2 separate regions of the Homo sapiens genome follow, and region 2 is linked to region 1. The links come from fine-mapping of genetic effects on gene expression. Tissue or cell type: whole blood. Region 1 holds a variant in brackets; the other region holds the start of a gene. All regions are shown on one strand. Distances are between the middles of the regions.

Region 1 (8,106 bases):
TTATGGAGCTCATTTTCAGATGGAGGAAGCAGAAAAAAACAAAGAAGAAAAAAATATGATATGTCAGATGATGATAAATACTACGGAGAGAGACAAAACAGGACAGGATGTGCAGGGTAGGGATAATTCACGGGGTTGGTCAGGAAAGGCCTCACAGAAAAAGGGACATTTTTTGAGTGGAGGCCTGAAAAAGGTCTACTTCCAAACACTTACACAGAAAAATGTGGTCTTACAAGTAAAGGTCACGGGTGGCAGAATGCACAGGATACTCAAAGAAGGGGCCCTAACAAGAAAGAGCCTTAGCTTCTTCTGCACTATCTGCCTCTGGGGCTCCATAATAATGTCCTAGTGAACAGAAGTCGACTGATTCCCCGCTTCCATTCAAGTGTTCTTGCTGCCACCTGCTGTCATGGGCAAAGACTGGGCTTGGCTGTTCCAGTAAAAGATGTCCAGGCACAGAGCAGAGAATGGTGGGGACTATGAATAAAGAGGTGGAAATCTGTGGAAAATTAAGAGCAAGGGGAAAAAAGGAGTAAAAGCCATGGTATTTCCCTGAAGAATTCTCCTTAGGCTATCAAAAGGTAGTTTTGATTTGTTCACCTCCCCCAGACCAGGGCCTCTTCTGCCTCTGTTAGCCCCTATGGGATGAGTAGTATGTGACACCAAGGGGACATGCCCACCCAGATCCTGTATGCCCTTTCCCCACTTTGCCTGGCTACCAAGAATCCTGGGATTTCTTGCTCAAACAGACTGAGATCTAACCTAGCAGTTGTCAGAGGTGGTGGGAGTGGGGAGTTTAAACTTCAGCATTGGCGTGTCCACACACATGATCGCGATGGCCTTCACAGTTGAAGGGGAGTGTGGAATGGGGAAAGGAGATGGGCTGGAGACCAGGATCCAGATTTCTCAGTGCTGCAATTCTCTGGCATGAAACTCTTGCGAACATTCCAAACCTTTTAGGTCATTCTGAGGACACATTTGTGTAAGTAAAAGGATGGAAAATATTTTATTATTGTTTTTAGCTTACTGTATTTCTTTTAAGTATTGTGACATATTACCATGGGCCCTGCAAATGTGAGGGCAGCTGGCCCTCCACCCGGGGTAGGAGAAGGGGTTGGGAAGGCAGTGCTGAGGCCTGGGAGCTGGGTGCTGCCATGAAGAGAAGGAGAAGCAGAGACTAGAGACGCCCACATGCCTCTCCACCACTACAACCATTAGAGATCCAGGGCTAACCAGGCTTGCTTTCTCTGGAGAGTCTTGTTTGAGGAAGCACAATCCAAATGTAATTTTAAAAACGCATAGATTCGGCCGGGCGCAGTGGCTCACACCTGTAATACCAGCACTTTGGGAGGCAGACGCAGGTGGATCACGAGGTCAGGTGATCGAGACCATCCTGGCTAACACGTTGAAACCCCGTCTCTACTAAAAACACAAAAAATTAGCTGGGCGTGGTGGCGGGCGCCTGTAGTCCCAGCTACTCGGGAGGCTGAGGCAGGAGAATGACGTGAACCTGGGAGGCAGAGCTTGCAGTGAGCCGAGATTGCACCACTGCACTCCAGCCCGGGCGACAGAGCGAGACTCCCTCTCAAAAAAAAAAAAAAAAAAAAAAAGCATACATTCAAAAGTAATTCGTAAAAACTTATCACTTTAAAAAGTAATTTTGAAAATTAAAAGACAAAATAACGAAAATTTCAATGGTTAACGTTAGAGAGACCTTCCAATTCATAATTTCTCAGCAATATGTCTCATATCCCCTTTTGTCTCTTTCCAAACTCTTTCATACCCTACTCTGCTCTGAAGCTACTCTGTCCAATGTATCTATTTAAAATTAATTAAAATAAAATGTAATTAAAAATTCAGTTCCTTAGTCACACCAGTCTCATTTCAAATGCTGGATAGCCACACATGGCTAGTGGCCACTGTACTGGACAGCACAGGCATAGACATTTTGATCACTGCAGAAGGTAATGATGAATGTAAATTAAAATTGCAATGAGGGGCAACAGGTATTCTCATCTATTTCTGGTGGGTAAATTAGTAATACTTCTTTTTGAGAACAATTTGCACAAGCTCTTTTATCCAGCAATTCCTAGGTATTTTCCTACATGCATTTGTACAAGGTCATTCATTGTAGCATCCTCTGTGATAAGAAGTGATCAGAAGTGACTGAAATTCTCATGGTTAGATAGATTCTGTCATATCCATGAAACAGAGATGAATACCACCATAGACAGAATATGGCCATATTCTGATGAAATGAAAAGCTCTTCAAGATGTACTTTTAAGGGGAAAAAAACAAGATGTAGAGCATTTGATATAAAATGCTGCCAATGGAAAGAAAAGATGCATTTGGATATGTTTGTAAGTAACAGACCATTTCTGGAAAGGTAAACAAGAAAGGAATAACTATGGTTGCTAAACAGGAGTTGTGTTGGGGGCTGAAGAGGGTAGGATAATATACGTCATAGGCATATATTATTTATTTTTACAGTTACACAATTAAAAACAAATGTAAGTAAATTTTTAAAATGGGACAATATATGAAAAAAAGTTTTAAAATTTGTTTTTGCTCCCGAAAAAAAAGGCTTGTTACAGAAAATATTATATTCAAACAAACTTCACTACTAATCATAACCACTAAGCAATCTCTGATCAGCAGAGCAAAGGAGGGCACTTTTGAGGAAACAAGTGGTCACCTGGTTAAGTATGAGATTAAGTATCACTTTCTCCCACTCCCCTCAAAGTTGCCCACATGCCTCCCTCTGCCCCTCCAGTGCCTGGCTGGGGCCCTGATGTCCCAAGGCAATGGCATGTGAACTTGAAGAAAATTATTAGAGTGTGTGCCACATGCAGACTGATAGGTCTTCCTGCCCTCTCAACCAAATGCACAAACACTCTTAAGCCCAATATTCCAGTAAATGGTTTTTTTTTTTTTTTTTAAAAAGTTCTGGACTTTGATTTCTGTTAAAATGCAGAGCATACCAGGCAAGTTAATAGCACTGTTCTTAGCTATTCATAGTGAGAGGAACGACGATTTTCCCATCCTTTTTTTTTTTTTAAATGAGCTTTGATTGAGAAAAATCAGTGGGGCTGGGTTTGGGCTCTAGAGGAGATAAGATAGGATAGAGTGGAGAAGACAGAGGATGGGGAAAGGAGAAGAGAACTTGAAGATTGGAAGCTCCAAGATAAACTTCCACATTTTACCTAAGGCCTGTCCTCAAAATAAATAAAACAAGACTTTCTGTAATGTTTTATTAGGTGTGGAAAGCAGAAGAGAAGAAAATATATCAAGAAAAAACTAATTTTATGTAAAATTATGCTGAACTCTTTTATCTTATCAAAAATCCTAAGTTGGCTCATAATGAATTCTTACTAAGTGGTAACTATTTTTACTGTGATGCTGGTCCACCAGTATGGGGCAGGGGGAAAGGACAGGTGGGTGGTGAGTCTATTTTCAGTCTGCCCTT[C/G]TCTTTCTCATCAAAGGAAAGATGAGAACTTTGAGAGGCTGAGGGAACCAGGAAAGGTGCAAGGAGGTGGCCAGGAATAGTCAATGCTCCTGGCCGTGAATCAGTACACCACCCAGGTGACGTGGGAGCAGGAACAGTCAGTGCTCCTGGCCGTGAATTAGTACACCACCCAGGTGACGTGGGAGGCTGGCTTGGGAGGTGATGCAGGATGCCCTGGCAGCAATGGGAGAAATGTTAAAATGATTATGTGGCACTAACTGAATGACTCCTCCCGATAAGCAGACCCAGAACATCTTACTTCTGTGAACAACCAGGGAGAGTTAGAGGCTGCTCACACAGTACCCTATAACCTTCAGGGAAATCGGGGAAGTAGAACTACTTGGATGAGGGCTCATGATTCACGTTTCACTGGTGAACATTTTCTCTCCCCACAATTCTCCCAACATGAAGTGGTCTCTGGAGAAAGACAGACAAACATTAAAGCTCTCTTTAATGAGAGCTTATTACATGCCAGGCATTGTGTCAGCCCTTTACTAGCTCACATGTTCCTTACAACTATAATAGGCAGGAACCAATATTCTTAGTACTCTAATAAGGATACCTAAGAACAGATAAGCTCAGCTGCTTTCCTGAGGCCAGGCAGTCAGTTAAGTGGTTGATCAGAAGGCAACACTCAGGACTGTGTCCCCAGCACTGTTCTGTAGACTGTAAGCATTATGAGGGCAGGAGCCGTGTCTGCTCTTTCCTTATGCCGTGCTGATGAGTACACTGCCCAACAAAGAAAGGTGATTGGAGGTCTGCAGAATGCAAAGGGGAATGTGGCTGGGAACGCGAGAATGAAGGCAGAAATGCCGGAATAAAGGCTGGACTGGGGTAGAGAAAGCAGGTGGGGATTCAGAAATGCGGGTGGGAATCAGAGCAGGGATGTGGGAATGCGGAAACGCAGGTGGGAACGATGGGGAGAAAGTGGCAACGTTGGGGGATGCAGTTGGGAATGCAGGAATGAGGGTGGAAATGTGGGAATGCAGGCTGGAAGAGTGGAGAGTACAGGAATGCAGGAGGGAATTCACGAATGCAGCAGGAACCTGGGAATGCGGGAATGCAGAGAGCGACGCTGCGGGAAATGCGGGAGGACCCCAAGCCATCCGCTCACCTGTGAAGAAGGGCATGAAAGTAAGGCTGCAGGCCAAGAGGAGCCTGCCCGCCACCGAGGGACGCGTGGCTGAGGCTGCGGCCGGCCCCGTCGCTCCGTCTGGAAGAGAGGAGCCAGTGAGCTCAGTTCCGCGAAAGGGACACGCCCAGGCGGCCGGGCCCGCGCTCCCGCGCCACGCGAATGGCCTTTCCGCTGCTGGGCGAGCGCCCCTCACAGCGCCCCCGGATGCTGGGTGGGCCGCGCTGTGAGCTCGGCCTCTGGAGGCACCTGGGACTCGGAAACACTGCCTAGCCTAGAGACTTGTAGGCCCGAGAGAGCCTCTGGCCTGTCCGCTCCTTTCCACAGCGCGCTGTGGGCCCGCGGGAGCAGCTGGACCGGCAGCTGCGTCCTGAGGTGGGCGGGGTGGCTTGGTGAACCCGTACCTGACGCCGGGCGGTCCGGGACAGGCGGGTTGGCCGGGCTAGGCCGGAGGGCACTGCGCATGCGTCGGCCTCCACAGTCCCTTTGGCCTGCCCCATTGGTCCTCACTTCCCGCTCTTCCCGCCCTCTGGGAGCCTTGGCCAATGAGATCCTGGTGGCTCCCGGCTCACGTGACTGGAGAAAGCCTGGTGGGCTAGTTCCACAGTTCTGACGATTGGAAGAACTTGGAGGAGCTGGAATGTCTGTTTTTCCGATTCTTTGGTTCTCACCCCACCCAATTAAAGATATGCTATTGTGCCTCACCCTCTTCCCTACCTAGTCTAAGCATTTTTGAGGAAAGGGTACCTATATACTTAATTCTCTGACGGGAACATTCTACCCTACCAATACCCTCCAAGTCATCAATGCATCTAGTGCAATTCTGGCACCTCAGAATATTTTCTAACATACTCACACCTCCTTGAGACTGAACACTTTGAAAGGACAGGGACTGTGTATGTATGCATGATCCACATACTTCCAGCCTTTAGCACTGTACCTGGGACATAAATGCATTGTTAGTGTGTGTTGAATGAATGAAGGGTCCCTTCTACCTATGAGCTCAAGAGTGTTAGAATTCTTCCTGTTACCCAACTGCTGTTTTGATGGCTTACTTTCTGGCAGCTGCAGAAGCTCTAATTCTTTTTGGAAGCAACCTAAATATCCATCAAGGGATAAATGGATAAAGAAAATGTGATATCTACCTAAGATGAAATATTACTCAGCCTTAAAAAAGGCCTTTTCTGCATCTATTGAGATAATCATGTGGTTTTTGTCATTGGTTCTGTTTATGTGATGGATTGTGTTTATTGATTTGCATGTGTTGTACCAGCCTTGCATCCCAGGGATGAAGCCTACTTGATCGTGATGGATAATCTTTTTGATGTGCTGCTGGATTCAGTTTGCCAGTATTTTATTGAGGATTTTCACATCAGTGTTCATCAGCGATATTGGTGTGAAATTTTCTTTCTTTTTTTTTTTTTGGTTGTGTCTCTGCCAGGTTATGGTATCAGGGTGATGCTGGCCTCATAAAATGAGTTAGGGAACAGTTCCTCTTTTTCTGTTGTTTGGAATAGTTTCAAAAGGAACTGTACCAGCTAGTCTTTGTACCTCTGTGAATCCGTCTGTTCCTGGGCTTTTTTTTTTTTTTTTTTTTTTTGGTTGGTAGACCATTAATTACTGCCTGGATTTCAGAACTTGTTACTGGTCTATTGAGGGATTCGACTTCTTCCTGGTATAGTCTTGGGAGGGTGTATGTGTCCAGGAATTTATCCGTTTCTTCTAGATTTTCTAGTTTATTTTCATAGAGATGTTTATAGTATTCTCTGATGGTAGTTTATATTTGTGTTGGATCAGTGGTGATATCCCCTTTACCATTTTTTATTATGTCTATTTGATTCTTCTCTCTTTGCTTCTTTATTAGCCTAGCTTGGTGGTCTATCTATTTTGTTAGTCTTTTCAAAAAACCAGCTCCTGATTTCATTGTTTTTTTGAAGGCTTCTTTGTTTCTCTATTTCCTTCAGTTCTACTCTGATTTTAGTTATTTCTTGTCTTCTGCTAGCTTTCGAATTTATTTGCTCTTGCTTCTCTAGTTCTTTTAATTTTGATGTTAGGGTGTCGATTTTAGATCTTTCCTGCTTTCTGATGTGGCCATGTAATGCTATAAATTTCCCTCTAAACACTGCTTTAGCTGTGTCCCGGAAATTCTGGTGTGTTGTGTCTTTGTTCTCATTGGTTTCAAATATCTTATTTATTTCTGCCTTAATTTTGTTAGTTACCTAGTAGTCATTCAGGAGCAGGTTGTTCAGTTTCCATGTAGTTGTGTGGTGCTGAGTGAGTTTCTTAATCCTGAGTTCTAATTTGGTGCACTGTGGTCTGAAAGACTGTTTGTTATGATTTCCATTGTTTTGCCTTTGCTGAGGAATGTTTTAGTTCCAATTATGTGGTCAACTTTAGAATAAGTGCTATGTGGTGCTGAGAAGAATGTATATTCTGTTGATTTGAGGTAGAGAGTTCTGTAGACGTCTATTAGGTTTGCTTGGTCCAGAGCTGAGTTCAAGTCCTGAATAGGCCTGTTAATTTTCTGTCTCATTGGTAAAGTTTTTCTTTTAACTATTTGGTGTTAGAAGTAAGATTTGAAGGATACCCAGTGGCCCCCCGGAACAAGGAATGCCCAAGTGTAGATACCCACTAGGGCCCATTGCTCTCACGCTGCAACTGAAGATTATGGGTAAATTTCCTCTTGGATTCAAACTCTGCAAATTTATGTTTTGAGCTCTAACTTTGTTTGAGCAATTTGTTGACTGGACTGGGTTCAGAATTGGAATGGATCTGGTAAAGAAACCAGACTGGGTCCAGTAGGAGGCCTCTGGTAGGTAAGGTTCCTGGAAGACAGCATATCATGTGTTTTTTGAATCCAAGGGCTCTAGAACTCTTCCATGTGGGACTGCAGCATATTTTATGTATAAGAACCATGGACCCAGAACATGTGTTTTTCTAGAAAAATGAGTGAACCTGACCAAAGGTAATTTTAAGTTACAAAGGCCACAGTGGGGAGACTTTTTACAAAGGACAAAGAGGTGCATGCCTTTATAATACGCCAGCTATGGGGACTGAGAAGACCTCCTTGTAGCTATTTTGAACCCCAGAGGAGTTGCCTCAAAAGTAAAGGACCGCGTGTCCCAAGAAGTTTACCTGTATTTTAAATAGTCAGGCCTTTGCATAAGAAATTTTTCATTTCTATACCAGTCATCTGATGGACCTGGCCTGTCTACCTACTAGAGAAAGCCCCCAAGGGCTACACTCCCTGGGCAATAATCAACCAATCCCCCAGAGAAAAAAAATGGAAGTTTCAAATCAAATGTGGAAGTCCCCATACCTGAAGCTATCTGACTGACAGTTGAATCATATTTAGAAAAACATTTGTAAGAATGAGTCTTTTCTGTTTTCTCTCTTTAATCCTGCTTCTCCCATGGGAACCCTGCAGTCAACTGAAACACCTCTTATGAAACTTCCCGCTAAACACAT
Region 2 (8,106 bases), 170 kb before region 1:
AGGATTTGAGGGCAGTGGGTTGACTCAACTTCTGTAGCAATTTGGCTCATTCCTCCTTGGATCTGGAGAGTGGAAAGTAGTTTTTCTCTTTGGAGAGAAGATACTAAAAGTTCAGAGGGTACAGCAATATTAGATTTGGCTGTGCCAAAGCAGGAGATAAGAAGAGCGCTATGGTGCCATGCATAGTCCAGGAAAAATAAATGTTATGAAGATAAATATGTCCTCCACATGGACCCTTTTATGTGTATAAAAGAATTGGCAGTTTCAGCAGTCTGTAAACTGTAAAGCTCAACAGTGACAAAAATACAAATAGCTCACATTTAATCTTAGCCTTTGTAATGGGATGCTAAGATGGAATTCAAGGTCTCAGACTGCAATGAGGTCACTAAAGGCAGAGAACCAATGTTTACAGAGAACCCCTCCTTAAAATGTTAGCACTCCCTTGCAGCACTTACAAAGGAAGGGGCTGGTGACTGTTTTTGAGAGAGTTGGCTCATTCCTTACCTAGATGATATAAGAAATTAAAGAGAGGCTGAGAGATTTATTTGGAGACGGTTATTGAAGAGCTGGGCATTGGCAGTAATTTCATTTTATTATTTTAAACAAGATCAAACCAAGAGAACCAAAAATGTTCTTGGGTCTCAAAGTGAGACCCAACATTCTAAGAGTAACCAAGAATTACAAGACCTTTCATTCCCTTGGATGAAACCACAAGGATTTTGCAGATATCTATTAAGGGACCATGAGGAAAGGATAAAGTTTGTTCTCGATGGAGTCCTGCTCTTTTGATGTGAAAGTTACACTTTCATTAATGAGTAAAGTAGCTGGAAAAGTTACACATTCATTAATGAGTAAAGTAGCTGGGACATCTTCCTTCCTACCTTACACTAGTCAGACAAGTATGTTGAGTCACTGATACCACAAATCAAAAGGAATATGCACAGGACACACTGGGCTCATCCTAAGGGTGTTCATGTTTGCACACCATGTCATTTGAGATATTTAGGCTGCAGAGGAGAAGGCTGGGCTAGTCAACAATCATCGTATACCAATAACAAACACACAAACAAGTCCCTGAGATGATTTCAGAAAGTAAGTGCCATGAAGAAGATACAATAGGGCACAGTGAGGTAGAGCATGACTGAGGAAAGGGAGCTTTCTGAATGAGGGATTTTATAGCTGAGTGGGTGATCTTATAGCCGAGATTTACAAGATGAGAAGGGAGCAAACAGATGAACAGCTGGGTGGTGGGCTGGGGGATGGGGTGGGGGCTGAGGGGAGAATTGAGTGCTCCAGAGACAAAAGAACTCCCTCTAGGATACTTGGCACACTTGAGAAATAGCAAAAAGGTGGGAGGACAAAGTGGGAAAAGTTGGGGGATGATGCCAGAGAAGAAGCCAAGGGCCCAATTAAGTAGGTCCTTGAGGCCATGATAAGGATTTTGGATTGCACCACTCACAGATTTTAAGCAAAAGATTTGATCTTTGAGGAAATTTTCCCTGCTTTGTGAGAGTACAAGTTAAAGTAGGAGGCAGATCCATTAGGAAGATGTAGCCACAGACCAGGTGAGAGATGATAGTGGTATGGTAGGCTTAAAAATAGTCCCAGAAAAGATATCTGTGTCCTAATCCCCAAAACTTGTGGAGATTACTTTATTTTATTTTAGATGGAGTCTTGCTCTGTCACTCGGGCTGGTGTGCAGTGGTGCAATTTCGGTTCACTGCAACCTCCTCCTCCTGGGTTCAAGCAATTCTTCTGCCTCAGCCTCCCGAGTAGCTGGGATTATAGGCCCATGCCACCATGCCCAGCTAATTTTTTTTGTATTTTTAGTAGAGACAGGGTTTCACCATGTTGGGCAGGCACATCTCAAACTCCTGACCTCAAGTGATCCACCCGCCTTGGCCTCCCAAAGTGCTGGGATTACAGGCGTGAGCCACCGTGTGCAGCCGATTACTTTATATGGCAAATACTTTACAGAAGAAATTGTCTTAGGATACTGAGATGGAGAGATTATTTGGATTATAAGGATGGACTCTAAATGCATTCACAAGCATCCTTGTAAGAGAGAAGCAGAGGGAGATTTGACACAGAAGGAGGCAATGTGACCTCAGAGACAGAGATTGGAGTGACGTGGCCACAAGTCAGAGAATGCTGGCCACCATTAGAAGCTAGAAGAAGCAAGGAAAGGATTCTCCCCTAGAGCCCTTACAATGGCCTGTGGCCCTGCTGATGCCTTGGCCTCCAGAACTGTGAGAAAATAAATTTGAGTAAAGGGAGCAAGTTTGTGGCTGAAAACAACACACAACACAATTTGTTACAACAATTACAGAAAATTAATACCAGTGGCTTGGAGTAGGGTTTTAGCAGTTGAGAGGGTCAGAAGTGATTGGATTTAAGATAAATTTTTGGAGACAGGACCAACAAGATTTGCTGATGTATATGGTTTAGGTATCATAAAAGGCAAAGAATCAAGGCTGATTCCCTTTTTTCTGAACAAGTGGGTGGATGATGACATAGTTTACTGGCATGGGGGAGGGTACAGGCGTTATTGTTATATGTTTGCCATATTTATGTTGGAGAAAATATCAGCTATCATGTGTCAGCGCTCTCTACATGCCAGGCACTGTCCTACATTCTTTACACGTGTTAGCTCAGTTAACACATGTAAGTCAAGCGGGCAGTAAGATATATGACTGGAGTTGAAAGAGGGCTAGGCTAGGAGCCATCAGTGTATTTAAAGCCATGGAACTAATTAGATCACCCAGGAGAACATATGCAGACGAGAGAAGATCTGGTTCAAGGCCTGAGCCAGGGCACACTTCATCTTTTGGCAGAACAGAGGGAATGGATCCAAAAAAAGGATAGAAGGAGCCAGTGAGGAGGGTGGAAAACCTGGAGCATATGAAGTCACAGAAGTAAAACTGGGGCCCAAAATGTAGAGGGAGCCATAAAGATGAGGAGGACGAGAGCTACATAGTCGCGCTCTTTCTAGGGCAGAGAGGCGGACGGAACTGACAGCTGCTATGTAGCAATATGACCGTCTCAAGTGACCTTGTGAAGCGCCACTGCAGTGGCTGGGTGGGGAGGAAAGCTCCATCAGAGCCATTTGAAGAGAAGAGGATGGGAAGTGAGCGTACACAGAGAATGCAGGCAACTTTTAGGAGGAATTCTGATGGTAATAGAAGTGGGCTGTAGCTGGTGGGACTCTGCGGTCCACAGAGGGCTCTAGCTGGACCCTCTGTGGGTCTTTCAAAGTGACTGATTCTGCATCATGTTTGCGGGTGGCAACTGTGAGGGGGAAATCGAAGGTGAATACAAAACGGGAACAAGTGAAGAGGCAACGTCCCCATACAGGCCGGGTGGGCTGGGGTTGGAGCACAGGAGGCCTGACCCTGTCTCTTCCACTTTCCCTCAAACCTTTGGTCACCAAGCGCAGACGCTCACCACAGAAGCCACCCAACCACAACTGCCGCGGGGCTCCGCGACACGCGCGGGCGACTTGAGTCGGGCAACCACGATTCCCGGCGGGCGTTGCGCGGGGCACCCAGTGCGCAGGCGCACGGCGTCGGCCTCCGACTCGCCCCTCCCTCTGGGGCGCGGGCCTCAGTTCCGGGCTACAGCAGCCGACGCCGAGAGGCACCGTTTCTTCTTAAAAGAGAAACGCTGCGCGCGCGAGGTGGGCCCCTGTCTTCCAGCAGCTCCGGGCCTGCTCGCTAGGCCCGGGAGGCGCAGGCGCAGGCGCAGTGGGGGTGAGGGCGCGTGGGGGCGCACAGGTAAGGCCGGGGTGGGGGTGGGTCGCGACGGGGGCTCTGGGCAGCCTGGGAACTGCCATTGGGATTAGTCCGCTCCACTCACTGTCAGCATTAAGTGGGGGTGCCCAAGACGGGGTGGATGGGGGGCGCCCTCCAGACCTCTGACCACGGCCTCACCGCCACTCGACCCAACTATGAAGAGCGCCCCCAGCTGCACGCCAGGACACGACCTTTCCTTCCCCTAGAAACCAGTAAAGGCCGCTGCCCTATTCAAGATGAAATGTGTGGACCGCCCCCAGCCCAGTTGAAATTTCCCGTGAAAGTCTCTCGCCCCTTCCCCACAGCTCCACTTCAGTGGACTGGAGGGCGCAGGCCTTTGTTCTGACTGCTTCTGTCTGCCTGCCTCCCACCCGACGACACTCACATGGTAGCGCTGAGCTTCAACACCCTGTATCATAGAAGGACGGGGTTTGGCTCCACACCTGCCACTGCTATTGAAATAGTTTAGTCTTGCCCCAGTTCACTGATGAGGAAACTGAGGCCCTAACGGCAGGTGGAGCCGGGTCCCCGACCCCCGAGATCGGCAGGGCGCTGAAGACGTCCCTTCCACCCTCCAGCCTCTGGTGCACATGGCTTCCTCCCCGGCGGTGGACGTGTCCTGCAGGCGGCGGGAGAAGCGGCGGCAGCTGGACGCGCGCCGCAGCAAGTGCCGCATCCGCCTGGGCGGCCACATGGAGCAGTGGTGCCTCCTCAAGGAGCGGCTGGGCTTCTCCCTGCACTCGCAGCTCGCCAAGTTCCTGTTGGACCGGTTAGGGGCCGGGAGAAGGGCTTGGGGGAGGGTACCCAGGCAGCAGCCCCTAGCCTCCTCTCCAGGGCCTGTCCTGCTGCTCTTTTCCACCCTCAGGTTTCTCACTTTACCAGGACGGCCTGTGTGACTTGTGGCCTCCGAGGGTCCTGCTCCCCTCCTCATGGTCTCAGCGAATAGCGGCCCTTAGGGCTGGCCCCTTACATGTGTGAGTGCCCAGGGCTGAGGGTGGCTGGCCACCTGAGTCCTGACCTGCCTCTTCTCCTGCTGGCAGGTACACTTCTTCAGGCTGTGTCCTCTGTGCAGGTAGGTAGGGGATGGCAGGGGGTGAGAGCCAGAGGGAAGAGGGACCACAGGGTGACCCAGAAACACCCTCCTTTCAAAGGGAGCCCTGAGTAAGTTTGGGAAGGGTGGGGTGAGTTGGGGAGCACAGGGTAGTTTGATGGAGGCAACCTCTGGGTGGGGAAGGGAGCAATGTCTCAGGATCTAGTGTGTCTAGGTTCTGAAGAATGATAAATTGGACTGGGGCTGAGGTTGCCCTGGGGTTTGAGGGAACAGGGCTCCCTGGGTATGGCTCTCCAGGGTAAGAGGAGGAGACTTCCCAGTTCAGCCTGACTGCTTCCCCCACCCCTCCAGGTCCTGAGCCTTTGCCTCCAAAAGGTCTGCAGTATCTGGTGCTCTTGTCTCATGCCCACAGCCGAGAGTGCAGCCTGGTGCCCGGGCTTCGGGGGCCTGGCGGCCAAGATGGGGGGCTTGTGTGGGAGTGCTCAGCAGGCCATACCTTCTCCTGGGGACCCTCTTTGAGCCCTACACCTTCAGAGGCACCCAAGCCAGCCTCCCTTCCACATACTACTCGGAGAAGTTGGTGTTCCGAGGCCACGAGTGGGCAGGAGCTTGCAGGTAGGCTGGAAAAAAGCAGAGTTATGGAGAAAAGGGAGGAAAAACGTTTCCCATTTTCTGTAGCTCAGAACCCTGTTCTCTAAAAATGATCCTTTTTCAATGGAAAAACTCTATCTTGACAAATATATCATCAAATACACTGTTGGGCATGAAAAGCAAAACAAAATACAGTGTATGGTATGCTATCATTGGTGAAAAATACAAATAAGGGGAAAGTGAATGTGTGTGTGTGTATGTGTAAGTACTTGCGAATGTATGACATATCTCTGGAAGGCACATAGAAAACCAGGTTGCCTATGGGAAGAAGTAGGCGATGGGGGACAGTATTGGAAAGGAGATTTTTGACTGTATAGTTTTGTGAACTATGTGAATATCATCTCTGAAACAGAACAACTCCTCCTACTCAGATAGCCTCTGCTCCCTCCTCCTCCTTCTTAAAAGTCTCTGCCTGGGTGCAGTGGTTCACACCTATAATCCTAGCACTCTGGGAGGCTGAGGCAAGAGGATTGCTTGAGCCCAGGGGTTTGAGACCAGCCTGGGCAACATAGTGAGACCCCGTCTCTATTTAAAAAAAAAAGAGGAGTCTCCCATCACTTCAGACCTTAGAACTTTATGTGTCCTCATCCCTTGAGTCCAGAGTTCCTTCTCTTTTGACTTTGCCTGTCCCACAGATTTGGAATCTGAGCATGATGAGAGGACTCAAGAGGCCAGGTTGCCCAGGTGAGGATGTGGATAGGAGAGAAAAGGCGGAATTGCATAGGTGGGAGGATGAGGGAGCAGGACCTCAGGCTTGCCTTCTTTGGGCCTGCAGGAGGGTGGGACCCCCACCAGAGACCTTCCCACCTCCAGGAGAGGAAGAGGGTGAGGAAGAAGAGGACAATGATGAGGATGAAGAGGAGATGCTCAGTGATGCCAGCTTATGGACCTACAGCTCCTCCCCAGATGAGCAAGTTGGGGTTGAGGGAGAATGAGCAGAGCAAGAGAGGGAGGCAGCTGGCCTGGCAGTTCATGGCTTTGCAGACTAGAGGGAAGGGCTTGTTAGTGTGGAGGGAAGGGTGGGTTTTGGGGAAGGCAAAAAGAACTAGAGGCTTTGAACTGAGGGGGTGAAAAGGGGTGAAGTCAGGTGCAGGGAGATTGAGGGCTGAAAGCAGATATGAATGGGGAGCCTAGGGTGGGGGTAGGGTTGTTTCAAGTTTGAGATCTTTTCAGTTTAGGGGCTAGGGTCGGGCAGGGGATGGCTGACTGCCCAGAAAGTTAATGCCATCTTCCTCTTTGTTCTCCTTTCAGTAGTGAGCCTGATGCCCCCAGACTACTGCCTTCCCCTGTCACCTGCACACCTAAAGAGGGGGAGACACCACCAGCCCCTGCAGCACTCTCCAGTCCTCTTGCTGTGCCGGCCTTGTCAGCATCCTCATTGAGTTCCAGAGCTCCTCCACCTGCAGAAGTCAGGGTGCAGCCACAGCTCAGCAGGACCCCTCAAGCGGCCCAGCAGACTGAGGCCCTGGCCAGGTAACCTGATGGCTGAGACAGAAAGGGCAGGGGCGTCCTGGGATGTGGCCCTCCCTCGAGGCCCTCTGCTCCCTCTTTGCTGCCCGTAGCACTGGGAGTCAGGCCCAGTCTGCTCCAACCCCGGCCTGGGATGAGGACACTGCACAAATTGGCCCCAAGAGAATTAGGTAGGACTTAGGGAGATGGGGTTCTGGGGAGGGCCGAGAGGAGGGAGGCAGAGAAGGGCAGGCAGGAGTCATGCTGCTCCTTTCCATTCTTCTCCTCAGGAAAGCTGCCAAAAGAGAGCTGATGCCTTGTGACTTCCCTGGCTGTGGAAGGATCTTCTCCAACCGGCAGTATTTGAATGTGAGGGGCACAGGTTGGGGCCTGTGTGGCTGCTGGGGTGGGGGAAAGGGCTAAAAGAAAAACTGAGGAAAAGGATCTTAAGGCATGGGAGGATTCAGAACCAGGAAGCAGAGGGTACCTGACATGTATAAAGTCTTTTGGTCCTCACAATATCCCCATAGATTAGGTGCTGCTATTATTCCCACTTTGCAGACAGAAAGGTTAGGCATTGCTCAAGGCTCTTCAGCTAGTGTGTGTTAGTGCTAGGGTTCTGAGCCTGGTGGCCTGGCTTCAGAGTCCATGCCTGGGCTGCCACATATCCTGGCTTGAGAGGGTAGTTCTAGAGTGAAACGGGCTGGGAGATGGTCCTGTCCCCAATCTCATTGCCTGAGAAATTTGAGGCACAGAAGGCAAGGGGTCCAATCCCTACAGTCAACCAGAGCACTTGGCACAGCAGGTACCAAGGCTGGGGAGGGCCACAGACACTGGGATGGTGAGGTGAGGGTAGACAGACAGGGGAGAATGCCGCCCACAGAAGATGACAGAGAGGAATCAAGTGAAAAGGGAAAATGACCCGGGATGACAGGGAAGCTCTAGGCTGAGAAGAGCATTCGGCAGGGCATGTCAGACATTCTGGAGTCTGCTGTGGAGAAGATCAAAGCAGCCCCTGGAAGTTTAACTGTGGAAAAATGGGATTCTAAAGAAGGGGACAGCCCATGCAATTTAGTGAGCCAGGATGCCAACTTAGGTCAGTGAAAAGAGAAATACTTTGATATTTAGGAGTTAAGGTTGAAGAGCCTGTTACCCTTAATAGTG

What was found. PIP is the estimated chance that this variant, and not a neighbour inherited with it, causes the effect.
Region 2: it holds the start of ZNF692, and the variant in region 1 is fine-mapped to the expression of ZNF692 in whole blood (TOPMed, PIP 0.98).

What each region holds. Positions count from the first base shown.
Region 1 is chr1:248,688,733-248,696,838 of GRCh38, reverse strand. All of the region lies in intron 3 of OR14I1 (olfactory receptor family 14 subfamily I member 1), which reads left to right. Among named protein-coding and RNA genes, the nearest start is that of OR14I1, 10 kb to the left of the region's middle. The variant C/G (reference allele first, on the strand shown) is at 3,468.
Region 2 is chr1:248,854,585-248,862,690 of GRCh38, reverse strand. It overlaps ZNF692 (zinc finger protein 692), which reads left to right and starts at 3,606. Exons shown (of 12, transcript NM_017865.4): 1 at 3,606-3,773; 2 at 4,370-4,560; 3 at 4,832-4,863; 4 at 5,194-5,457; 5 at 6,129-6,177; 6 at 6,269-6,403; 7 at 6,745-6,966; 8 at 7,056-7,133; 9 at 7,233-7,311. The coding sequence starts at 4,382. ZNF692-DT (ZNF692 divergent transcript) reads right to left here and starts at 3,527. Exons shown (of 3, transcript NR_186117.1): 1 at 3,445-3,527; 2 at 1-62. RefSeq lists enhancers at 3,122-3,271, 4,072-4,121, 4,722-4,801 and a silencer at 3,412-3,911.